Homo sapiens: one gene and its partners. The protein of the gene in region 1 interacts with the protein of each later gene in a biochemical or structural test. Each region holds a gene or a part of one and is shown in the gene's direction. Other genes may lie near its edges.

Evidence for each region.
Region 2: the proteins of MAPT (region 1) and MAP2 form a complex in vitro, tested with the Homo sapiens proteins (one study listed by BioGRID).
Region 3: the proteins of MAPT (region 1) and PLCG1 interact in a test that uses a peptide from one of them, tested with the Homo sapiens proteins (one study listed by BioGRID).
Region 4: of the proteins of MAPT (region 1) and CHEK2, one has a biochemical effect on the other in vitro, tested with the Homo sapiens proteins (one study listed by BioGRID).
Region 5: the proteins of MAPT (region 1) and SIRT1 form a complex in vitro, tested with the Homo sapiens proteins (one study listed by BioGRID).
Region 6: of the proteins of MAPT (region 1) and CAPN1, one has a biochemical effect on the other in vitro, tested with the Homo sapiens proteins (one study listed by BioGRID).
Region 7: the proteins of MAPT (region 1) and PACSIN1 form a complex in vitro, tested with the Homo sapiens proteins (one study listed by BioGRID).

Annotation. Positions count from the first base shown.
Region 1 is NC_000017.11:45,901,054-45,904,553, forward strand, and holds part of MAPT (microtubule-associated protein tau), read left to right. Parts: intron 1-3,500. UniProt on the Homo sapiens protein: Promotes microtubule assembly and stability, and might be involved in the establishment and maintenance of neuronal polarity.
Region 2 is NC_000002.12:209,686,047-209,689,546, forward strand, and holds part of MAP2 (microtubule-associated protein 2), read left to right. Parts: intron 1-3,500. UniProt on the Homo sapiens protein: The exact function of MAP2 is unknown but MAPs may stabilize the microtubules against depolymerization. They also seem to have a stiffening effect on microtubules.
Region 3 is NC_000020.11:41,140,543-41,144,042, forward strand, and holds part of PLCG1 (1-phosphatidylinositol 4,5-bisphosphate phosphodiesterase gamma-1), read left to right. Parts: intron 1-3,500. UniProt on the Homo sapiens protein: Mediates the production of the second messenger molecules diacylglycerol (DAG) and inositol 1,4,5-trisphosphate (IP3). Plays an important role in the regulation of intracellular signaling cascades.
Region 4 is NC_000022.11:28,728,321-28,731,820, reverse strand, and holds part of CHEK2 (serine/threonine-protein kinase Chk2), read left to right. Parts: intron 1-1,272; coding exon of another isoform or gene 1,273-1,401; intron 1,402-3,500. UniProt on the Homo sapiens protein: Serine/threonine-protein kinase which is required for checkpoint-mediated cell cycle arrest, activation of DNA repair and apoptosis in response to the presence of DNA double-strand breaks.
Region 5 is NC_000010.11:67,912,156-67,915,655, forward strand, and holds part of SIRT1 (NAD-dependent protein deacetylase sirtuin-1), read left to right. Parts: intron 1-318; coding exon 319-876; intron 877-3,500. UniProt on the Homo sapiens protein: NAD-dependent protein deacetylase that links transcriptional regulation directly to intracellular energetics and participates in the coordination of several separated cellular functions such as cell cycle, response to DNA damage, metabolism, apoptosis and autophagy.
Region 6 is NC_000011.10:65,209,217-65,212,506, forward strand, and holds the end of CAPN1 (calpain-1 catalytic subunit), read left to right. Parts: intron 1-106; coding exon 107-171; intron 172-632; coding exon 633-701; intron 702-801; coding exon 802-880; intron 881-1,119; coding exon 1,120-1,236; intron 1,237-1,597; coding exon 1,598-1,656; intron 1,657-2,043; coding exon 2,044-2,070; 3' UTR 2,071-2,790; downstream 2,791-3,290. UniProt on the Homo sapiens protein: Calcium-regulated non-lysosomal thiol-protease which catalyzes limited proteolysis of substrates involved in cytoskeletal remodeling and signal transduction. Proteolytically cleaves CTBP1 at 'Asn-375', 'Gly-387' and 'His-409'.
Region 7 is NC_000006.12:34,525,076-34,528,575, forward strand, and holds part of PACSIN1 (protein kinase C and casein kinase substrate in neurons protein 1), read left to right. Parts: intron 1-1,167; 5' UTR 1,168-1,230; coding exon 1,231-1,293; intron 1,294-2,256; coding exon 2,257-2,413; intron 2,414-3,500. UniProt on the Homo sapiens protein: Plays a role in the reorganization of the microtubule cytoskeleton via its interaction with MAPT; this decreases microtubule stability and inhibits MAPT-induced microtubule polymerization.

The DNA of each region.
Region 1 (3,500 bases):
GAAAAGTCGGCAACTACCCAGCTCCCCTGCACCAAACTGGGCAGAAGTGGATCCTCTGAAAATTGCACACACCCATGTTTAAATGTACACACAGAACTCTTGCCACAGGCAAGCGGAGATTTGTCATCTGCTGTCCCTGCCTCATCTTCTTCCTGAAATCCACTCCATGCCAGGAATAAACTGCATGCTCTCCACCAGCCCAAACTGACCTGCCTTCCCGCCAGCCATCCCGGGCAGGGTGACCTGGCTTAGTACATCGGGTTCAGAGATCTTTCCAGTTTACTCGTTGAATAAAAAGTGAGGGCTGATCGAGAAAGTAATGGCAGTCAGGGAAGGCGAAGGAGGTAAAGAAGAGATTTTACAAATGAAGTAATTCAACAGAGTGCTGACATTGGTAAACTGGCAAACAGATTTCAGGGTGGTTGGTTGAGAGTAGAGTAGAAAAGGATTAAATAAAGCAAACTTGTGGTGTACTGAATCTTAGGAATTCCATGTATCCAATAAGTATAGTCATTTATGAATTAATAAATTCGGCCTAAGAAGCCTTCTTATCGCTTAAATCAAGACTAAGTAACAATATATCAGTTTTAAAAAGTCATTATATCAGAAAATCATTTAAATGATACACATAGATTTCCAAGATTTTACTTTAACCGAAACTATATAAATGTGAATTTGTTCACCCATCTTTTGACACAGGGCTCAGGTCTTCTCTTGGTGTCTGGATCAGCCAGTTGAAATTTCTTGTCTGTTTTGCCTATGCCACATTAATAATGCACTGTCTGGGTCCTCCGATTTCAGTTTGGATTTTGGGTTTACATTGTGGAGTCATCTGAATGCAGAATCCTTCAGGGATTTTACTTTTTTTTTTTTTTTTCATGGTCTTTACCATCCCATTTGATAGTAAATATTACTCACCTTTATGAAGTCTTTCCAAAACATTCAACTAAATTTTCTTAAAATCATTGAATGATTTGAAGAGCTTATTCCTCAGCACTTTTACTCCATCAGCTTGCACCTTATTTTTTAATCTTTTTTTGAGACGGAGTCTCGCTCTATCGCCCAGGCTTAAGTGCAATGGCGCGATCTTGGCTCACTGCGACCTCCACCTCCTGGGTTCAAGCAATTCCGCCTCAGCCTCCGCCGTAGCCGGGACTACAGGTACACACCATAATGCTCGGCTGATTTTTGTATTTTTGTAGGGATGGGGTATCGCCATGTTGGCCAGGCTGGTCCCGAACTTCTGACCCAAGTGATCCACCCACCTCGGCCTCCCAAAGTGCTGGGATTACAGGTGTGAGCCACCGCGCCCGGCCAGCTTGCACCTTATTTAGGATATGTGATTATTATAGCAAGTCTGGTGTACATACAAGATTTTGAATGGGCACAGATGACCTTTAGTAAGTGCTTGGCTGTGATAAGAGGCAGTCCTGACTGCAGATCAGGCTGTGTGGACCCCAGCCTTGCATGTTTACAGACCTTCATGTCTTATTCTTACAGGGTATCAGAAGAACACCTACTGGGGAAACTTATAAATTAGTAAAAGGTGGGCATTCTCCCCGCCCATCTTCTGTCTGTCTGCCAGGACTAGCACAGCACTTTGAAGTCATTCACATAGAATCCCAACTTAAGAGGGTAAAATCCTCCTCAACAGACTGAAAATAAGTTTAAATTCCCTTTGCTATATTAACTCCCCTGAGGAAAGAGTCTTAGATCAATGTCCAACACTAAAAACAGTTTTAAATCAGCAAGTGAGAATTAAATCTGAAGCAATTGATAATAATGTTTCATTCATTCCTCTCCTTTGGCCCCGTCCACCCTACTGCTAAATCCAGGCATCAAAGAGAAGAGGGACATAATTATCTCTAGTCCCAGCTGCTGGTTTTCCTTCCAGCCTATGGCCCAGTTTTCTGTTTTACTGAGAAGGCTGGTGATGTTATCTTGGGATCTAAGTCTGCAGTTTCACCACAAAAAGTCCAGGGATGCACTTTCATGCTTGTGTCCTCCTCCCTGGGATAGCAAGGATATTAGAAGACCCCTGGCTCTGTAATTGCTTGTCATGTGCTCTACAGACGCCACAGAATGCCAAGAACGAAGTGCTGGGAAGGACAAATTCATGGAACCGTGGGACGGTGCTCCTCCCCCAGCGTAAAGGACAGCTCCTCCTCCTGAATTGGAGCCAGCGTTCTAAATCATGTGTCAACAGAGTTGTCCTGGATCGGATCCAGTTCTGCCATTGATTTGCAGGTCATTTCAGTGGTACCTGTTTCCAGTTGTTCTTAATTGAACAGTGGCACCAAACTATTGTCTTGCCTCATCCCCCTCCCATGGCCTGTCCCCCAAAAAGAGACTTCTTGGGTAATTAATCAGGGCAACATCAGGCAGTCTGGGCGCGGTGGCTCACGCCTGTAATCCCAGCACTTTGGGAGGCCGAGGCGGGCAGATCATGAGGTTAGGAGATTGAGACCATCCTGGCTTTGTGAAACCCCGTCTCTACTAAAAATACAAAAAATTAGCCGGGCGTGGTGGCGGGCGCCTGTAGTCCCAGCTACTCGAGAGGCTGAGGCAGGGGAATGGCGTGAACCCGGGAGGTGGAGGTTGCAGTGAGCCGAGATCGCACCACTGCACTCTAGCCTGGGCGACAGAGCTAGACTTCTTCTCAAAAAAAAAAAAAAAAAGGAATCTCTTTGGTTTTATATATATTTTTTTTATATATATAATATATATTAAAATATAATATATATATTTATATAATATAATATATAAATATATTATATATTATATATTTTATATATTATATATTATATATATTATATATTATATATTTATATATTTATATATTATATATATTTATATATTATATATTTATATATATTATATATTTATATATAATATATATTATATATTATATATTATATATTATATATTATATATTTATATATATTATATATTATATATATTATATATTATATATTTATATATTATATATTTATATATATTATATATTATATATTATATATTTATATATTATATATTTATATATTATATATATTTATATATATTATATATTATATATTATATATGTATATATTATATATGTTATATATTATATATATTTATATATATAATATATTGTATATATTATATATCTAATATATTATATATATTATATATATTATATATTATAATATATATTATATATTATATATTATATATATTTTTATATATATAATATGTATAATATATAATATATATAAAAACATATATAATATATATTATATATTATATATATATTATATATATTATATATATTAAATATATTTTATATATATTATATATATATACACATATATATATATAAATGAGGCCAGGCTCGGTGGCTCACACTTGTAATCCCAGCACTGTGGGAGGATCACTTGAAGCCAGGAGTCTGAGACTAGCCTGGGCAACAAAACAAGATCCTGTCTCTACAAAAGGAAACTGTAAAAATTAGCTGGGCA
Region 2 (3,500 bases), on another chromosome or scaffold:
TTTACAGCCCCAGAGATCCACTGAGAGAAATATGAATGGCTAGGACATGTGACAAGCCAGGGCTATGATTCAGTCAGTGTTGTAGGCCAGATCTTGGACAATTATCTGCTCAGCTGCGAAATCGTGCCGAGTTGAACTAAGAATATCAAACGTTATTTTAGGCTTCTGCTATCCCATGATATAAAAAGCATTGTGGCTGAGAAAGTTCTGAGCATCCATCCAGAAACATCTTCCATGGAACAATCAGTAAATAATGTGCTTGAAAGATTAAATGTATTCTCTCTACAAAATGTTATTTTAGTATCCTCATGATTTCAGACTTATTTCTAGTTGTCAGCACTTGGTTGCCAAAAATAAGTTACTGTCCTAAAAATACAGTATATTTGCAAATTAATGCTATAATTTTGTCTTCTTAAAATCTGATATAAATAAAAACTGTACAGATAGATACTATAGATTTTGTTCTTATTATTGAGAGTCATGAAATTTTAAATTGATATCTCAATATAAGTAAATAAATAGTGATTAGCAAATTTAGCAACCACCACATAGGCCTGAGATGTAACGTCTGCACCACATCAGAAGCCAAGTGCTCACTGAGTTATACGAGAATCCAAATGCTAAGCAGACTGATCTACAGTTGTATATTTAAGGAGATATGTTTAAATAATGCAAATTTCCTAGGCAAGATACAGGAAAGAACAGAAATGAGAGTAGTTACTTTAGCATTTCAATAAGAAATATGCAATAAGAGGTTTGAAACATGAAAAACAGCCAAGAGCCAGTGGTACAAATGAAACTACATGGAATAAAGTCTTGATGAATCTGCAGCCGACTCTGCAGAAATTTTTAGCTAATTGTATCTCTGCTAAGCTTTCAGAAGGAAAACAAAACATAAGAAAACAAGTTTATAATATTAGAGGCTTTCTTAAAACAGTATACTTTTAGTGTCCTGCAAATCAGAACCTGGTTTAAAATGATGCCTCTAGGTACTACATTAGCCTTAGCATCCAAAGAAAGAGCTATGCTGACTGCGCATTTCTTATTAAGGCAGGAAAGAGGCATAATGCATTGTAGATTTTTCTTAACAGGATTGAAATTAAAAATGACTTTCTGGTTAAAGTTATTAACTAGAATTAAATTAACCAAAACACTACTTGTGCATCCTAGATAATTAAGACTATGTTTTAAACAGGACTGTTTTCTTCATAATCTTACAGGCGTTAAATCCTAATAACTTTCTTCTTTTTAAACTTATAAACATATTGATCTAAGCATGAGTAGAGTTAACCTTCATGAAATAATTTCCTCCAAAGAATGCATTTGTTTTGTAATGCTTTGTTTCTATTCCAACGTTCCTTGGTTATTCTGACTTGTTTGAGAGGAATGTACAGATGATTTTTATTTTGCCGCAGGGCTGTCAATGCTTTTGGTTCACTTAGATCAATGGCAAACTTGCTTAAGGGATAGGTGGAATTCAGCAGTTACTGAGGCATGAAACATTCACTGTCTCCCATCCTCCATCAGCTTGATCTTGCTAATTTCCCTTCATCCTGCTGTGCTGCTTCTGTGGCCCTTCCTGCCCTTGTGTAGGTGTTTGTTTCGTCCGTCTGATCTTGTGTCTGTGTTGTCCAGTTCTCCCTGCAGTTTCTTCCTGTGTGTCTGTTTGTAGATGAAGGGGCTGAGGATCAAGTGGGTCCTCTACACAGGTTCCCCAGCCATGAACCTGCCACCAGCGGGGAGAGGCGTGGACTCCTAGCCCCCTCCATCTCAGTGTCTGTGCCTGATGATGACCCTTACAATTCCGATGAGGAGTACTATGAGCATCCTTTGTTCAGCTCAGAACGGACCACCTCTAGTGTGCTCCCCAGTGTCACAGCGCAGAGTGCAGAGGCCCACTTAGGCCAGGAGAAAGGTGAACCAAGCATGGTCCCCTTTTGCTCCTCCGCCCCGGCCTACAGCTTTGACCACCTACATCATGTTAAGTGTGCCTTAATACAGGGTGGGAGGGGCAGGAGCCTGTTTTCTCTGCATGAAAGTGAAGTTCCTATATAAGTTGAATCTATCCAAATGCCTTAACAATTTATATAAAAGAAGCCTTACTAGAGGCATGTGAGCACTTCCTTTTTCTGTATCATTGCTTCTGAGAAGGAAGAAAAAGAGAGAGAGAAAGAGAGAGAGAAGCAAAAAAATATTCCATTAAAGTATGGCTTCTTTCTGCTCCCTGCCAATAATCAGCTGGGGAAGAACATATTCTTTACCCAAACCAAAGAAGATGACTCTGAATATAATTTTTTTCCTCCTTAGACACATAATATTACTATTAAATAGCATCTTTAAATAGCATCTTTAAATAGCATTAGCTTTCTTTTTAGTGCTATATTAATATGATAGATCTTTAAAAGAGAAAGAATGAAGAATCTGTTTAGAGCAGAATAAATGTTATGGAAACAATTTATTTCCCCATATCATGTAATCATCTACAGAAACTACAGAGGCTTCCCCAGGTGACTAAATCTTGGCTCACATCAGTAGAGCTGGACTAAAATGAAGGAAATGATTCAAAGCCTTTGTCATTCTAGCCTTATAAAGCTGGGAGACTCAAGTGTATAATTGGTTATCGTGAGGATAAAATAAGTAGGTGATGGGCTGCAATGTGTCTCATTCTAACTAGGTAGTTTTGGTAAAGAAAAAAAAGGTACAGCTAAATATATTTTTGCTTAGGCGAAGAGTTTATTTCCAAAAGGGACAATATTTAATATGAAAGCAGATAGTTCTAAAGCAATAAGGAATAAGCTTACAGCTCACCAACTATGGTCATCATAATAAACGTCTTCAAGGACCCTTTTGAAAACAGAACACCAATAGCTCAGGTTCTCTGATAAAGAAATATAACCCCTATTAAGTGAAACTAAGTTCTTCTAAACTAAATTTCTAAAATATGTGAGTTTTTAAATTAGGAACAATTGTAGTGGAAATAAATATGATTTATACTAAATGAGAAAATGAAAAGCTAAAAAGCTACATGGATTTGAAAACATGTAAATTAACTTGATTAGACTTTATCCAAAAAGGTAACATTATAATGCAGTTATATTAAAATTCTTTTAACTGTAATCAAAATCTATGGCATTATAAAAATTTTCTTAAAATAACAAGTTAGAATTTAAATTTTTAAAATGCTACTTAAAATGCCATAATTAAATTACAAAACTAAAAATGAGTGCTAAATGTGAAGAGATTGATAATGTAGATTTTTTTTTCTCTCTCTGTTTCTCTCTGAGGATATTAATATTTCTAAAAAACAAAATAAAAGAAAATTCCTTTTCTTTTTATCTGTAGTCTTTCCCTCAGGGCCGTTTAAACAATGCACAATTATTTCATAAGAATTTTGTAAGAATCTTCCATTTACAAAACTATAAAACAGCTCATATATTTCTCTCTAATTCCTTAAGTGACCAAATGGAATTTACTTATTTTTACTGACATTTCAAGTGTAA
Region 3 (3,500 bases), on another chromosome or scaffold:
GTGGTTTAAGGAGCACTCATACTGATATGTAAGACCTTCTTCTGCCCTGACTCTGTGCCCTCTCTTGTCAGCAGTTGTGAAATGGAGCTGACACCTCCTGATTTCTAGGGTGGTCATTTGGCTCAAAAGCGGGGTGGGGAAGTGCTTAGGTGTTGACAAGTTTGGTTGTCCTGGTGGTATGACAGGAACCAGGTTGGTGTTTGGCCTTTTATGTTGCAGATACTGACATAAATGAATAAAATGCAGTTATGTAGAGTTCCAGCTGAGTGCTATTGAGACCTTTCGTCCCATTTTACAGATGAGCAAATGGAAATGGAGAATCGTTTGTGCCCAAGGTGTTGTGTCAGTGTGTGCCAGGGCCTCAGCTGGGGCCAGCTCACTAGTCAGAGGCTGACTAGCAACCCCAAGCCCATGTTCCCTGTGGTCCACGTGGCTCCTCTGTGAGACACCTTTGTGCTCAGACCATGCATTACAGGGCAAAGACCACTTTGGCTTTTGTATCCCAAGACAGCCTCAGCCTCTCTAGGCTCTGGCTCCACACTTTTTCTTCTGGTGTTTTCTGAGTTGAGATGGTTCAGACTCGTGTTTAATGAGGTTGTCCATTTGAGGGTCTTTGTGGGCCCAGTAAACACTGGTGTAGACACTGTGGAGGTACTCTGAATACTGGCTGAGCATGTCCATGGGGACTTCTGAGGCCCCAGGCTTCTGTCTTTGGCTGATCCTTCACTAGATACTTTTCTAGATGCCAGGCCCTCTGAGGTGAAGGAGTATGGGTGCTTGCTTTTAGGGAAATGAAAACAGGCAATGACAATTGTGAGCAGTACCTTTGATGAAGAGGGTGAGGGTGGCGGAAGAAAACAGCTAACTGCCTTGATGAGGCAGGCGGGCTCAGAAGGGAGGTAGTAGTGGAACCAGCTGGCTGGGGCTTGACCCCTGTGGCTGGGGAGCAGACCACACCAGGAGGCCTGCTCCGAGGGCTAGGCCCACAGCACGGGAGAGGGCAAGGCCCAGGCCGGTGTCATCAAGGGTTTTCTTTGTACTGGCTGTTACTCCCAGTGGGAGAGGGGCAGGAGCACATGTCCGGATCTCCAGAGCTAGCCATCCCTGCCTGTGTATTTCCTGTCTGATGTAGTTTTTTCCAAGGGAAGTCAGACCTTTTAGTGTTTCCTCAGCACCCCAGGCTTGCCCCGATGTGTGGGTTTCCAGGCCCCCCCGCCCAGCTGGGATCCTCTGTTTCCTGTGAACCTAGGAAAAGGGCCTGCTTCACAGATAACTGGAGGAGCTGAGCACACCCAGTCCTGGGACCCACAACACCTCCAGCTTCTCTCCAGACTCTTGTGTGTGTGTGTACACAGATGCACAGGATTCAGTTGGAGTTTAGAGATCTTGGCTACCAGCTTTGCTCTGGGTAGCTTCTTGGAATGAGGCACATTTATTAATATTTGCAATAAGTATTATTATACCTCCCCATTTGCCCAGTGCTAGGCACCAAGGATTCAAAAGTTTATTGAGACATGGTTTGTGCCATTGATGAACTCTTGGAAAAGACAGATGTAGAGGCATATGATTATAACCCTGTGTGTTACATACCATAATATAAAGGCCTCTACCAAGAACTGTGAGGAGCTCTGCCAGGAAGGCATTAAAGGAGAGGTGACCTTTGAGGTAGGCCTTGAATTACTGAGGCACCTGTCTGTGCCGAGGCTAAGGAACTGGGAATCACTCTGTGCAGGGGTAGGGAACAGATATGGTGTGGTAGAGAGGAAGCTGGGACTGGTTGGAGACAGCTATAGCCCTAGTGTGCCATGTCCAGCAGATTACACTCAGTCCTGGAGGCGACGGGAGTCAGCGGAGGCTGTTGTGGGACTGACTTGCCTCTGCCTGGGAGACCACAGTGGCAGTGGTTTGTCAGGCAGGTGTTGGGGAGGGAGGCCAGTGAGCTCCTACGGTTTGCACAGTTTGCAGGAGAGAGCTGCTGAGGGCCCAGACAAGACCTTCTTGCTGAGGCAGGGTGGGGATGCCATGGTGGTAGATGGGAGAAGGGCTGGGTCTTGAGGGGTGAGACAGAGCTTAGTAGTTAAGCATTTGGGCCCTAGACTCTGCTTGAATTAAAATCCTGTTGTGCAGCTTACTTGCTCTGTGACCTTAAAGCATATGACTACCTCTCTGGGCTGCTTATCTGTAAAAAGGATAGTATTAAATGGCATTTATTTTATAAGGTTTTTGTGAGGATTTGATGAGAACCTGTATAAAGTGCTTAGCACCTGTATAAAGTGCTTAGCATGGAGTGTGGCACAGTGTAAGTGCTTACTACGTAGGATCCCTGACAGGACAGAGATGAGGATTAAGTTCTCAGGAGGACCTGGTGGGGAGGAGTTCGAATGCACCTGCTGTCCTAAGGGGCTGGTGCCTGGCCACCAAGCCCTTTGATTCAGAGGCAAGGAGGCCCGCCCATCCTCTCTTGCAGCTCTCAGCAGTCCCTCTATTGTCAGGGCTCTTTCCCACTGCTGGTTTTGCAGGGAGACAGGGCAGTTGGCTGGAAGCAGCTGCTTTGGGTGGTAACCCCTTCTGTAGAGTGAAGGTATGATATTGTCCTATTTCTAAGTGCCTAGCCCAGGACGCTATCTGGAGAGATCTTGTCTTTGAGGAAGTGCTCTAATGCCACAGCCTCGATGTGGTAGGGCCTGCCTCTGCTGTCACTGTTCTGTGTCAGTCTCCGTTAACTCACAGCATCTCTTCTTACTCTGTGCCTTTTCCTGTGGGATGTGGCTTCAAGGAGACCACAGATGATAAGTTGGAGGAAGGGAGTGAGGCCTGAGATTGCAAAGGTGTGATATTAGGAGACTGATTTTTCCCCCTTTCCACTTGCTTTGTTAGAACTAGAGAAGTCACTGCAGACTGTGAGGAGAGTCCTAGGAGAGATGGGTGTGGGATAGGAGGATGGGAATGTTCTGGTGCCCCTTGTAGAGTGCCTTGTTGAGAGGAGCATGGGAACAGTGCGTCCTTGGAGGGAATCTCTGAGAGCAGCATGTTTACAGGTGGCAAGACTCAAGGTGGAGCCACGGGTGAGGAGTGGCTTCAGGCTACCATTGACCAGATAGTCCCACCTTGCTGGTAATTGAGCTGAAGTGCCTGGAGATTTGTGGCTAGAGCTGGTCAGATTTGGGTTCAGGTCTCAGCTCTTACTGTGACCTTGGGCAGATTACTTTTCCCTGTCTGAAATTGATCTTTAGCTGTAAAAGTAATTTCTCCTCACAGAGCTGTATATTAATAATAAGGGAGATTATATATAAGAGTAAGAGATTTTATGTGAAAACTACCCAGCACAACATTTGTCACTTAGTGGCCACTTAACAGTATTCATTTCCTTTACTCTCACCTTTGTTAACCACAGAGCTCCAATCTTTTCCACCACTAAGCTCGGCCACAAGTGGCTGCTCCAACAACCTGGGCTAGGAGTCTGTTTCCTACTTGCTTTCTGTGTTCCTTCCCTGAGTCTG
Region 4 (3,500 bases), on another chromosome or scaffold:
TGCAGGGGCTCTCAACTGTAATCCCAGCTCTTAGAGCAGCAGAGGTGGGAGGATAGCTTGAACCCAGGAGTTTGAGACCTGCTGGGCAATATAGCGAGACCCCATTCTCCACAAAAAGGAAAAACAAAAAAAGACAAGTAAACAAAGATCCTGATAGGATGACCAGCATAAAGTAGGTGCTGAATAAATAGAGACTGTTTATCATTATTATTATTATTATTATTTGAGACGGAGTCTCACTCTGTCACCCAGGCTGGAGTGCAGTGGTACGATCTTGGCTCACTGCAACCTCAATCTCCTGGGTTGAAGCCATTCTCCTGCCTCAGCCACCTGAGTAGCTGGGATTACAGGTGCCCACCACCGTGGCTAAGTTCTGTATTTTTTAGTAGGGACGGGTTGTCATCATATTGGCCAGGCTGGTTTCAAACTCCTGACCTCAGGTGATCTGCCCGCCTTGGCCTCCCAAAGTGGTGGGATTACAGGCGCGAGCCACCACGTCTGGCCGAGGCTGTTTATTATTATTATTTGTTAATTATTTATACCTATGTTTTCTTTTAAAATTTTACAGTTTTAATTCCTTTTTTTAAATTTTTGTTTGTTTGTTTGTTTGTTTATTTTGAGACAGGATCTCACTCTGTCATCCAGGCTGGAGTGCAGTGGCACAATCTCAGCTCACTTCAGCCTCTGCCTCCCAGGCTCAAGCAATTCTCCCACTTCAGCCTCCTGAGTAGCTGGGACCACAGATGTGCACCACCACTCCCAGCTAACTTTTTGTATTCTTGGTGGAGATGGGGTTTCATCATGTTGCAGTCTGGTCTCAAACTCCTGAGCTCAAGCAATACATCCATCTTGGCTTCCCAAAGTGTTAGGATTACAGGCATAAGCCACAGTGCCTGGCCTAGTTTTAGCTCTTATGTTTAATTAAGGTCCTTTATTCATTTTAAGTTTTATTTATTTATTTATTGAGACGGAGCCTTGCTCTGTCACCAGGCTGGATTGCAATGTCATGATCTCGGCTCACCGCAACCTCCTCCTCCCGGTTTCAAGCGATTCTCCTGCCTCAGCCTCCCAAGTAGCTGGGATTACATGCTTATGCCACCATGCCTGGCTAATTTTTGTATTTTTAGTAGAGATGGGGTTTCACCATGTTGGCCAGGCTGGTCTCGAACTCCTGCCCTCGGGTGATCCACCCGCCTCGGCCTCCCAAAGTGCTGGGATTACAGGCATGAGCCACCGTGGCTGGCCTAACTTTTTTATTTTTATTTTTTGTAGAGACAGAGTCTGGCCATGTTACCCAATCTGATCTTGAACTCCTGCTGTCATCTGATCCTCCTGCCTCAGCCTCCCAAAGTGCTGGGATAAGAGGTGTGAGGCACCATCCCCGGCCAGTTTGCAGTCTAAGTATGATGTTAGCTGTGGGTCTTTCCCTTTCCCTTTCTCTTTCCCTTTTCCTTTTCCTTTCCCCTTTCCCCTTTCTTTTTTCCTTTCCTTTCCTTTCCCTTCTGCTTTCCTTTCCCTTCCGCTTTCCTTTCCTTTCCCTTCCGCTTTCCTTTCCTCCCCTCCCCTCCTCTCCTCTCCTCTTTTCTTTCCTCTTCTCTCTCCTCTTCTCTCTTCCTCTCTCCTTTCTCCTCTGATATCTGAAGACTAAGCTGTGGATGTTTCATAAAAGTTCTTTCTGGGGTGGGTGCAGTGGCTCATGCCTGTAATCCAAGCACTTTGGGAGGCTGAGGTGGGCGGATCACAAGGTCAGGAGATCGAGACCATCCTGGCCAACATGGTGAAACCCCGTCTCTACTAAAAATACAAAAACAAAATTAGCCGGGCGTGGTGGCAGGAGCCTGTAGTTCCAGCTAGTTGGTGATAGAGTGAGACTCTGACTCAAAAGAAAAAAAAAATGCTTTCTGGCTGGTTGCTCTGACTCTTTCACCCTATAATCTCAGTGCTTTGGGAGCCTATGGCAGGAGAAGTGCTTAAGGCCACGAGTTGGAGACTGCAGCAAGCTATGATTGCAGGCCACAGAGCAAGACTTTGCCTCTAAATTAAAAATAAATAGATAATAAATAAAATAAAAGCTCTTTATTAGGTTGAAGGAGTTTACTCCTATTCCTAGTTTTCTGAGTATTTTTTGTTATAAAAGGGTGTTGCATTTTGCCAAAATTTTTTTCTGTGTCTATTTTCCTATATTCTATTGTTATCGTGTATTATATTAATTGGTTTTCAGATGTTAAACCAACCAAGCTTTCCTGGGTTAATTCTTTTTTTTTTTTTTTTTTTTTTTTTGAGATGGAGTCTCGCTGTCGCCCAGGCTGGAGTGCAGTGGCGTGATCTCGGCTCACTGCAGGGTCTGCCCCCTGGGGTTCACGCCATTCTCTTGCCTCAGCCTCCCGAGTAGCTGGGACTACAGGCGCCCGCCACCTCGCCCGGCTAATTTTTTGTATTTTTAGTAGAGACGGGGTTTCACCGTGTTAGCCAGGATGGTCTCCATCTCCTGACCTCGTGATCGCCCGCCTCGGCCTCCCAAAGTGCTGGGAATACAGATGTGAGCCACCGCGCCTGGCGTCCTGGGTTAATTCTTGTTTGGTCATTTGTAATCTTTTTTATGTGTTGCTGGATTTAGTTTGCTACTGTTTTGTTGAGGATTTTTATATCTATATTCACAAGGGATATTGGTTTGTGGTTTTACTGTGATGTCTCTGTCTGGTTTTGGTATGCTGGCCTCATAGATGAGTTGACAGTGTTCCGTTCCGAATTTCTTCGAAAAGTTTGAGAATAATTGGTATTAGTTCTTTACATATTTGATAGAATTTAAAATGAAGCCAGCCGTGTGTTTCTTTTTTCTTTTTTTTGAGACAGGGTCTCACTCTTACCCACGCTGGAGTGTTACCCACTATCACGTTTCACTGCAGGCTTGACCTCCCAGGCTCAACTCCTACCTCAGCCTCCTGAGTAGCTGGGACCTCAGGCATGTGCCACCATGTGTGGCTAATTTTTTTATTTTGATAGAGATGGGGTGTCCCTATGTTGCTCAAGCTAAAGTGAGGCAATCTGGGACTGCACTTTTCTTTGTAGGGATATTTTGATTACTCATTCAGTCTTTTGTTTTGTTTTGTTTTTTTGGAGACAGAGTCTCTCTCTCTGTCACCCAGGCTGGAGTGCAGTGGCACAATATTGGCTCACTGCAGCCTCTGCCTCACAGGTTCAAACGATTCTTGTGCCTCAGCCTCCAGAGTAGCTGGGACTACAGGGGCGCGCCACCACACCTGGCTAAATTTTTTTTTGTTTTGTTTTTAGTAGAGACGGGATTTTGCCATGTTGCACAGGCTGGTCTCAATCTCCTGAAGTCAAGCAATCCGCCTGCCTTGGCCTCCCAATGTGCTAGGATTATCATTCAGTCTTTTCACTTCTTATGGGTATATTCAGATTTTCTGTTTCTTCTTGTGTTAGTTTTGGTAGTTTGTATCTTTCTAGGAGTTTGTCCATTTCACCTATGTCATCTAATA
Region 5 (3,500 bases), on another chromosome or scaffold:
GTCTTGTGGAGAAGTACTATTATCATCCCCATTCTGCAGACAAGGAAATTTGAGGTTCAGAGTGGGAAAGTCTGGGAAGATTGCTCAGGGGTAACCAGGTGATAGGAGCAGAACTTGAGCGTTTTATAAAAGACACTTAACTGCCCATCTGCTTGCTTGATGAAATGTAATGGCTTGGTTAAGTATTTAGTGCATGGGTCTTTTTTGGGAATTTGGAGCTCAAGCCCTTGTTGGATTTTTGCATAATGTATCTGTTGTGGTTTTATTAGCTTACTTCCTCCTCCCTTTTTCTAACTCTTATTTTTCACCCTATTTTAGGTTCCATACCCCATGAAGTGCCTCAGATATTAATTAATAGAGAACCTTTGCCTCATCTGCATTTTGATGTAGAGCTTCTTGGAGACTGTGATGTCATAATTAATGAATTGTGTCATAGGTTAGGTGGTGAATATGCCAAACTTTGCTGTAACCCTGTAAAGCTTTCAGAAATTACTGAAAAACCTCCACGAACACAAAAAGAATTGGCTTATTTGTCAGAGTTGCCACCCACACCTCTTCATGTTTCAGAAGACTCAAGTTCACCAGAAAGAACTTCACCACCAGATTCTTCAGTGATTGTCACACTTTTAGACCAAGCAGCTAAGAGTAATGATGATTTAGATGTGTCTGAATCAAAAGGTTGTATGGAAGAAAAACCACAGGAAGTACAAACTTCTAGGAATGTTGAAAGTATTGCTGAACAGATGGAAAATCCGGATTTGAAGAATGTTGGTTCTAGTACTGGGGAGAAAAATGAAAGAACTTCAGTGGCTGGAACAGTGAGAAAATGCTGGCCTAATAGAGTGGCAAAGGAGCAGATTAGTAGGCGGCTTGATGGTAAGAAAGGCAGTCGGACCATTTTGAAAGTATAAATGTCATAACAGTATTTCCAAAAAATTAGCTATTTCGGCAGGTTAATCGATAGGGTAGCTTTATGTAGTTGATTCTGTTTAGAGAAACTGTACAGTTCGTAATCAGAAAGGTAAATCTTCTGGTATCTTAACATGATATGGAGAAGGAAGTGTTTAATAGTGCTCTGTATGTTGTGTTTCTCTAGGGGATGGAAAAATAAGAATGGGTTATTAGCTGGCAGAAATGATGACAGATTTGAGTGCTTACTGTAGGTCAGCTGCTTTACATATGTTACCTGATTTTAATCTGAGGTAGGAACTATTACTCTTCTTCAGGTGGGAAAACTCAGGACCATAGAGGTTAAATACCTCATGCACAGTAACTACTAAGAAGTGGAAGAACCAGATTAAAATCCAGTCTATTTATGCTTAGAGCCTGCCCCCTTAACTACTATGCGGTGTTGTCTCAGATGTAGAACACATCTTTGTTTTCTCTGAGGACTTAGAAAAAACACGCGTGATTCTTCTCCACTGAATATAGGAATAGTTTCTACCCTGTTTAGAACATGCATAGTCTTTATCAATAAGTGTTAACTGACATGTGAAATCACTTTCTACTCTTTGGAAGCCGATGTTTTAAGTCCAAGTAGTCTGTATGGTGGAAATTCCTAACTTATGTTAAAAAAAAGAAAACCACTGTAACTTAGCTATAACAGTCTTATATAACTTAGAACTTTAAGTCTCATTCCATTTACCATACTTGGCGAAAACTGACAAATTTTAGACAACTGTATTTGAGTATTCCAGTCATTTGCTGTAAATACATTTTAGTTCAGTTGAATAAACCTTTGGCCTTTTTCATATTAGGCACTGTGGTAAGTTATGGAGACACAGTGATTAATGTTGTGTATAATTATAAATGTGAGTGATACTCATTAATACTTTGGTATAGGTGCTGCTGAAGAACAAAGTACTTTATTATTGTTTTGAACAAAACATCACACAAAAGGTAGATTTTTTTTTTTTTTTTTTTTTTTTTTTTTTGTGACGGAGTCTCACTCTGTCGCCCAGGCTGGAGTGCAGTGGCACGATCTCAGCTCACTGCAACCTCTGCGTCCCAGGTTCAAGAGATTCTCCTGCCTCAGCCTTCTGAGTAGCTGAAATTACAGGCATGCGCCACCTTGCTCGGCTGATTCTTGTATTTTTAGTAGAGACGGGGTTTCGCCATGTTGGTCAGGCTGGTCTCAAACTCCTGACCCCATGATCCATCCACCTCGGCCTCCCAAAGTGCTGGAATTACAGGCGTGAGCCACGGCGCCCAGCCCCAAAAGGTAGATTCTACTTGGAGATTAGATTACAGAAGGCTTTCTAAGGAGCAAAATATTTAACAATAAGTAGGGATTTAAAAAGAGCAGACGTGTTCACAGGGGAAACTAGAAAAAGCATAGAGGGATGCTTACGTTTGCAAATCGTGGCAGAAGTCAGAAAGTAGAAAAATTGCTACTGACTTAGATACACAGTTGTCTCTAGCGTATACAAAGTCTACCTATGCACTAAGACTTGCACTGGGAACTTTTCTTGAATGTCATTTTGACAGATGTGTCAAACGGACAATCTCTTTGCCCAGGAAACAGAGTTAACCTGGAACAGTCATTTTTTTTTAAATTTATTTATTTTTTGAGACGGAGTTTTGCTCTTGTTGTCCAGGCTGAAGTACAATGGTGTGATCTCGGTTCACGGCAACCTCCGCCTCCCGGGTTCAAGCGATTCTCCTGCCTCACTCTCCAGAGTAGCTGTAGCTGAGACCACAGGCGCATGCCCTCATGCTCAGCTATTTTTTTTTTTTTTTTTTTTAGTTTTTGTAGAAACAAGGTCTTGCCACATTGCCCAGGCTGATACCAAACTCCTGGGCTCAAGCAGTCTGCCAGCCTTGGCCTCCCAAAGTGCTGGGATTACAGGTGTAAGCCACTGTGCCCTGCCTGTGGTGTCTTGGGAAACTCATGAGTACTATGTGTCTGTTGTAATAGAGGGAAATAAGTGGTTTTCACAGTGATTTGTAGTGGACTGTGAAATTTTAGGGATTCAGGTCAGAGTTGTCACACAGGTTGTAGTCAGGGTGAGAACTGGGTCATGATGCAGTATGAAAAAGTTCGAGAGCCACTTTGGAGAGAACTTGAGATAGGCCACCTACCAGTGTGGTAACCAGGCTTTTGAGAATTCGTCTGGGATACGGTACAATAAATACTACATCTATTATGTGTGAAGAGATGTTAAGTTAGGGACATACTGTGAATTCAAGGATAGAAAACTTTTCCATCAGTTTTTAGGGATCCTACTCTTTCACTTAAACCCCAAATGGCCAAGCTAGGATTGATTTGGTGTGCTGTAGAAAGAACTTCATTGGTATTCATGGATTCACATTACATCTTAGAGGAGTTTTCAAAAGCGTCTTAGACTGTATGTGTATATACACACACATTCTGAAGCAGTAGGTGGGTCTTGGGGCCTGAGATCTCGGGTGAATGTAAATTTAGGTTCACAGGTGATACTGTAGATTCACAGTGTCTACAGAGTACACTATGAATTTGTGGTGACTACATTATTGACAAA
Region 6 (3,290 bases), on another chromosome or scaffold:
TCGTCAGGATTTGTGCGTCCTTGACTCTGCCCCACCCAGTGCTCCCAGCAGGGGCAGGTGCAGGAAGCTCACTAGGTGGAGATGTTGGAATTGGTTTTTCTTGCAGACAAAGACCTGCGGACCAAGGGCTTCAGCCTAGAGTCGTGCCGCAGCATGGTGAACCTCATGGATGTATCCTTCCGTTTGCTTTTGTCTCCTGAGTGGGGTTTTGGGTGGAGGTATCGGTGCTGGGAGAACTGTCCCAGGACAGCACAGAGAACAGGACAGAGCCATGCGGAGTGTGGACACACAGTGCCCCATGCTCAGATGTCTCCCTGGACGTCTTCCTGTTGGTTGGGAGGGAGAAACTGAGGCACAGACCTGTGTCAAGTGAAAGGTGGAGCAAGACCTGGGTCCCCATTGACCCTGAGGCTGGTGCTATTTCTGACCCCTCCCCAGCCCACTCCACTGCAGCCCAGCTCAGAGAATAAGGCAAGCCCGGCTGTGGGCTGACTGTACATGGCTTTTGCTGCTTCTCCTCACCCAGCCCCAAGTCGACTTGCCGGCTCGGCGGCCATCTCCCCTTCTGCACAGTTGCCCACTCTCCCATGACTGGTCTAAGTGATGGAATTTCCTTCTTAACGGCCACCCAGCGTGATGGCAATGGGAAGCTGGGCCTGGTGGAGTTCAACATCCTGTGGAACCGCATCCGGAATTACCTGGTAGGTTGTCCCCACTCACCTCAGTCATGCAGGTGCGGGCCGGGCAGGTGGGAAGGGCCGGGTGACTCAGCCTGGCCCTCACCCTCTGCCGCCACCTCAGTCCATCTTCCGGAAGTTTGACCTGGACAAGTCGGGCAGCATGAGTGCCTACGAGATGCGGATGGCCATTGAGTCGGCAGGTGAGACTCCAAGGCTGACGGCACCTGTGGGGCCCAGGACAGGTAGCCCCACTGCTCCTATGCCCCAGGCCCTTGTCCCTGGGGTGCTAGTGGTGACATGGTAACAGCCATCTTGTCCTTTTCCCCACGGTTACTAGCACCCTGCCTAGCCCCAGCCCCCTCCTGGGGACCCAACCCCTCCCCCATCCTGTTGGGCAGGGGCTGCGCCTCACTGACCTTCACTCACTCTCCTGGACCAGGCTTCAAGCTCAACAAGAAGCTGTACGAGCTCATCATCACCCGCTACTCGGAGCCCGACCTGGCGGTCGACTTTGACAATTTCGTTTGCTGCCTGGTGCGGCTAGAGACCATGTTCCGTGAGTGTCCCCAACTGCCTCCCACCCTCCAGCTCCGTCCCAAACGCGTCCCCCAGGAGCTGGGGGGAATGACAGATGGGTGAATTAGCAGATACAGGCCAGTGCTGTGGGTGTGTGCCAGAGAGGCCTGGGTCTGGGTTTGGGGGGCCCTGGCTGAGTGCCAGGAGAGTCGGGGAGGGAGGGAGTTGACAGTGGCTTCTCAGGCAGCAGGAAGGGGTGAAGCTTCCCAGCTTCAAGGGGTGTCAGCTTGCGGTACTGTGGGGAGGTAGAGAGGGACCAGGCAGGAAGGGGGCCAGGCCTGGCCCTGCGTGAATATCCCACTGAGTTTTCAGCCCTGTATCACCTTTTCTTGAACACACAGGATTTTTCAAAACTCTGGACACAGATCTGGATGGAGTTGTGACCTTTGACTTGTTTAAGGTGGGAACCTCCCTGGGCCCATGGTTGGGGAAGAGTTCCAGGCGATCGAATTTTCTTATCTGGCCAGTGTTCCCTGTCCTTTCCTGGAAATGAGCCTGGGCCTCAGAGCCAACCCTGAAGCCCGGGCCACCTGAATCCTGAAAGGCTGGGGTGGGGGTGTCTGGATTCTGGGAAAGGAGCAGGAGGGGAGGTCCAGGCCCTTGGAGGCCCCTATGGGAGCAGCACTCTGGTTTCCCAGGGGTGGAGGAGGTAAGAAAGTAACCCCTCCATGAGGTTCCTGAGGTGGCTCCTGAGACGTGGAGTTGGGGGCTGGACCTGGGGTTTGGGTGGGGAAGAAGCCAGGGAGCCATTTCTGCGGCCCCAGCTGACCTGCCTGTTCTCCCGCAGTGGTTGCAGCTGACCATGTTTGCATGAGGCAGGGACTCGGTCCCCCTTGCCGTGCTCCCCTCCCTCCTCGTCTGCCAAGCCTCGCCTCCTACCACACCACACCAGGCCACCCCAGCTGCAAGTGCCTTCCTTGGAGCAGAGAGGCAGCCTCGTCCTCCTGTCCCCTCTCCTCCCAGCCACCATCGTTCATCTGCTCCGGGCAGAACTGTGTGGCCCCTGCCTGTGCCAGCCATGGGCTCGGGATGGACTCCCTGGGCCCCACCCATTGCCAAGCCAGGAAGGCAGCTTTCGCTTGTTCCTGCCTCGGGACAGCCCCGGGTTTCCCCAGCATCCTGATGTGTCCCCTCTCCCCACTTCAGAGGCCACCCACTCAGCACCACCGGCCTGGCCTTGCCTGCAGACTATAAACTATAACCACTAGCTCGACACAGTCTGCAGTCCAGGCGTGTGGAGCCGCCTCCCGGCTCGGGGAGGCCCCGGGGCTGGGAACGCCTGTGCCTTCCTGCGCCGAAGCCAACGCCCCCTCTGTCCTTCCCTGGCCCTGCTGCCGACCAGGAGCTGCCCAGCCTGTGGGCGGTCGGCCTTCCCTCCTTCGCTCCTTTTTTATATTAGTGATTTTAAAGGGGACTCTTCAGGGACTTGTGTACTGGTTATGGGGGTGCCAGAGGCACTAGGCTTGGGGTGGGGAGGTCCCGTGTTCCATATAGAGGAACCCCAAATAATAAAAGGCCCCACATCTGTCTGTGATGTGTTTCTCCCCAGCCTACTGCCTGGAGGGCACCTGCAGGCCCCGGCCCATGGGGGCAGCTCGTGGCCTCAGCTCACCCCTCCCCTCCAACCCCTCCATCTCCTTCCCCTTGACCTTGAAGCTTGAACCCCTACTGGAGTACTGGGTATCTGGGCAAGACCACCCCTGGCCCTGGGAGGTTGGGAAGGAGGGGCCCTAGCTGCAGGGACAGGGCCACACAGCTGAGGTCCCACATGGCTCTGCTGATCCTACATGCCCTCCCCGCCGCCCAGGAGGCCTGACCCCTACCTTTCTTGCACACTTCGGCCCGTTGAGGTGAGGCTCTGGCTGAAATTCAAACCTCTACTTAGCACACACCCGGCCCCCCAGAGAGCTCCCCCGAGCACAGAGCCGCCTTCAGGTCCCTCTGTGGGGAGCCCCTGTGACCCAGACACCTGCACTTACATAAGCCGCTCCAGGGCCTGCTGGGATCTGGGATTTTCTTACCAGAGATAAGAGT
Region 7 (3,500 bases), on another chromosome or scaffold:
TTTATAAGTGAAAAGTGCCAAGTTAAGAAAAGAAAAATTCAGACTCATTTCTTTGTCCCTTGATGAAATCCAGCCGTCCTCCCTCTCACCCACCCGCACTGTGCGTGAGTTTATGGGAAAGTCTGTCTGTGGTTCTTCTAAAAGGGAGGGAACAAAATATGTTTAGATGCCTGAGGGGTGCAAGAGGCAATACTGGGTTATTACTGGGAAAGAGCCCCAGGCCCTGGACAGATGGGGAGCCCTAGGGGGAGGGACATCCTCCACCAACCATTCTTACGTGTTATTGCCCCTGCCCTGAGCCTGAGAGCCAACTGCTGGACCCCCAGGTTGGGCTGAATCTTACAGAGGCCAGCCTTCCCTGAGCATCCACACTGTCAGGGTTCACAGTCCTGGGACTGCAGTGCAGAAGCAGGGAGGTGTCCCCTGGTGCCGGGATCCAGCTAGAGGCTGGCAGCTTGTATCAGGGCCAGGCGCAGCCTGGACTCTGCTGCCTCTTTGAAAACCAGGCCCTTGGCCCTCTGAGTCCTGGCTCCTGACTACTGAGCCATTCTTGCCTGGGGTAACAGTGAGGCCTGGCTGGGGGAAGGGAGGAGGGGAGTACCCACCTCGGCCCTGGGGCAGCGCACGGCCTAGATTGGATAACCCTGATGCCTGCCGACAGATCCAGGGCAGACACAGCCACCCCAGACGCTCCCATAGATCTCGGTGGTGTGACCTGTGGGCCAGGACACCACACATTTGGGACTCTCAGGAGACTTGTAAGAAGCTAATGGGGGCTGCTGAGGTTGGGAGCAAGGGCAGACAGAAGGGCATTTACAGGGTCCCGGGGCTCAGATAACTGAGGAGGCGCTGAGCCTGGGCTCCAACAGTCCAGGAGAGAGAGCCAGCTCTGGGGGCTGGGGCTGGCTTCTGAACGGAGGTGCTCATACTGGATAGAGGATGGATTCCAGGGAGGGGGAAGGAGGAGGGATGGGGAGTTGGGCATGAGGGTGCTACAGGGCGACTCTTGGGGTTACCTAAGTCTGGTGAGTTAGTCTCTGGACAGGAAGATGGCATCCTAATGCAAGCCTCCCTGGGTCCCATCGGTTTGGGGACCCAGGCCTGGAATGGGGCAAAGGGTGGAAGGCCCTTCCCTCATCTCCAGGGATCTCTCTCCTGCCCTCCCAGTGCATGAGCAGCCGAGCCTGCTAACCGCAGCTCCGCACTTGTCCATCCCCCTGCGGCTACACCATGTCCAGCTCCTACGATGAGGCCTCACTGGCGCCAGAGGAGACCACCGACAGCTTCTGGGAGGTGAGGCTCTCATGATCCCCAGGTTCGGGGACCAGACAGCCTGGCTGTTTGGAGGCCAGGCTCCCTTATCACTCACCCCATGACCTCAGGCCCCACTCCGCAGTCCCCCAGGCCCCTCCAAAGCCCTGGGTGTCCAACAGGCAGCGGTAGCCATGAAGTGGCTAAGAGCACTGCCCACTGAGCCAGGAGCTCCTCTCTCCCCACAGCTGCCCCCAGAGAGAGCCTGTGGCATTTCACAATGTGGGAACAGGCCCTTTGTGACTCTGTGGCACTTCCATCAGGCAGGTACAGCACAGCCTTTCTCAGCTGTTCCTATTTCCCTCGCTCGCCCCCCATCCTGAGGTGGGCAGGGGTGGAGCGCCGGACACAGAGAGAGGGAGTGAGCTCCCAGAGCCCCACGGGGCCGCAGAGCGGGAGGCACAGCCAGAAGCCAGCATTTTCAGAACCTTCGGAAATATTTGAGACCTGGAGAAAAAAAATTGCTATTGGCTCCGGAAACCCAAGACGAAAACTGCCAAACCTAAATTAATAAGCGTTTAATGAGATGTCGACAAAACATAATATTATGTCAAGAAGCTGCAGCTCAACTCAACGCTTATATGACTCTATATAAATATAATAGATTTAACTCGCAAAAACAAAATGAATAATTCATTCCAGCCCAAGTCCAAATTCTAAAAATCCTTCTGCATTTTGTGGCAGCAAGGAAATCATGTTTAAATTGGGGTGAGGGTGCGTGTAGACGGCGGGGCCTGAGGCAGGGTGCTGGAGCCTCCGAAAGTTAGTTTCCCTGGGGTGTTGCCGCTGCGCCGCGGGGCGGGGGGCGGGGGCGGGGGCGGGGACGGCGAGGCCGTAAGCGGGGAGGCGGGGCGGAAGACAGTGGGCGTGGCCGTGCTGGATGCGGCGGGCGGGGCTGGGGACGCTGGGAACCCGCGGGAGTGGTGCTCGCTGCTTGGCCGCCAGGTGGGGAACTACAAGCGGACCGTGAAGCGCATCGATGACGGCCACCGTCTATGCAACGACCTGATGAACTGCGTGCAGGAGCGCGCCAAGATCGAGAAGGCGTACGGGCAGCAGCTCACCGACTGGGCCAAGCGTTGGCGCCAGCTCATCGAGAAAGGTGCTCCCCCAGGCTCACATCGTGCGCGCCCCCAGGCCGTCACGAGCCCCCTAGGTCTGGGTCCTAGGAGCCCCGGCTACTTGCATGCACCATGCCCTCCATCTACCAGACACAGGACATTTTCAGGCGCTGTTCCCTCCTAGATCAAACCAGGCCTACCTGTTCATCTCTATTTTGTACAATTTTAGGTTGAATTAAAAAAAAAAAAACACTTTTTATCTTGAAATAATTCAAACTTTGTGAAAGTTGCAACAGTAGCACAGAGAATTCCTACATACCCTTCCCCCAGGCTCACTGGCCCCACGTTTTCTCACTGACTGTTTATTGATATGCATATTTTCTGAACCATTTGAGAGTAAGCTGGAGCCATTATCCCTGTTTACCCCTAAATTCTTCATGTATCTCCTAAGAACAAGAGCATTTGCTTAAGTAACCAGAGTTCAGCTATCAAATTTGGGACATGTAATACGACCCATACGCACATTTACCATGGCAATTGCGCTTGCTAGTCCAGGATCTAGTGCAGTCGCACATTGCCTCTATGCATTGTGTCTTCAGGTTCCTTTAATCTAGAACAGTTTGAAGTTGCGGTTTACATATACTTGTTCATGTTATTCTCTTGCAGTATACTCTAAACCCCATGAGAGCAGGGGCTGGGCCTGCACCACCTAACACAGTGCCCTGCACAGAGCTGGTGCCAGTACACAAACAACAAGTCAGTGTGGAATGACTGGTCCCCAGTGGCCTCTTGGCATCTGTCACAAGCTTCAGCTAACATTCCTGGAGCACCTACTGTGTGCTTGGCGCTGTGCTGGGCTTGTCAGAGCTCACAGGGTCCAGGCTGCCCCCCTCCGACCCCATTCCATGGGGCTCACATGCTGACAAGAGAGATAAGGAGGAGGGAGGTATGGCCGCAGATACTGTGAGAAGAATGCAGCGAGGGCTGCTGGCCATGGCAGGAGGGCAGAGCAGTCAGGGAAGGCTTCCTGGAGGTGGTGGCTGATGTGGGCCCTAGAGGATGGGGCCACGTAGAGCAGAGGAGGGCATTTCTGTTGCTATGAGAGGAAAGGGAAAGCCTCAGAGAAGG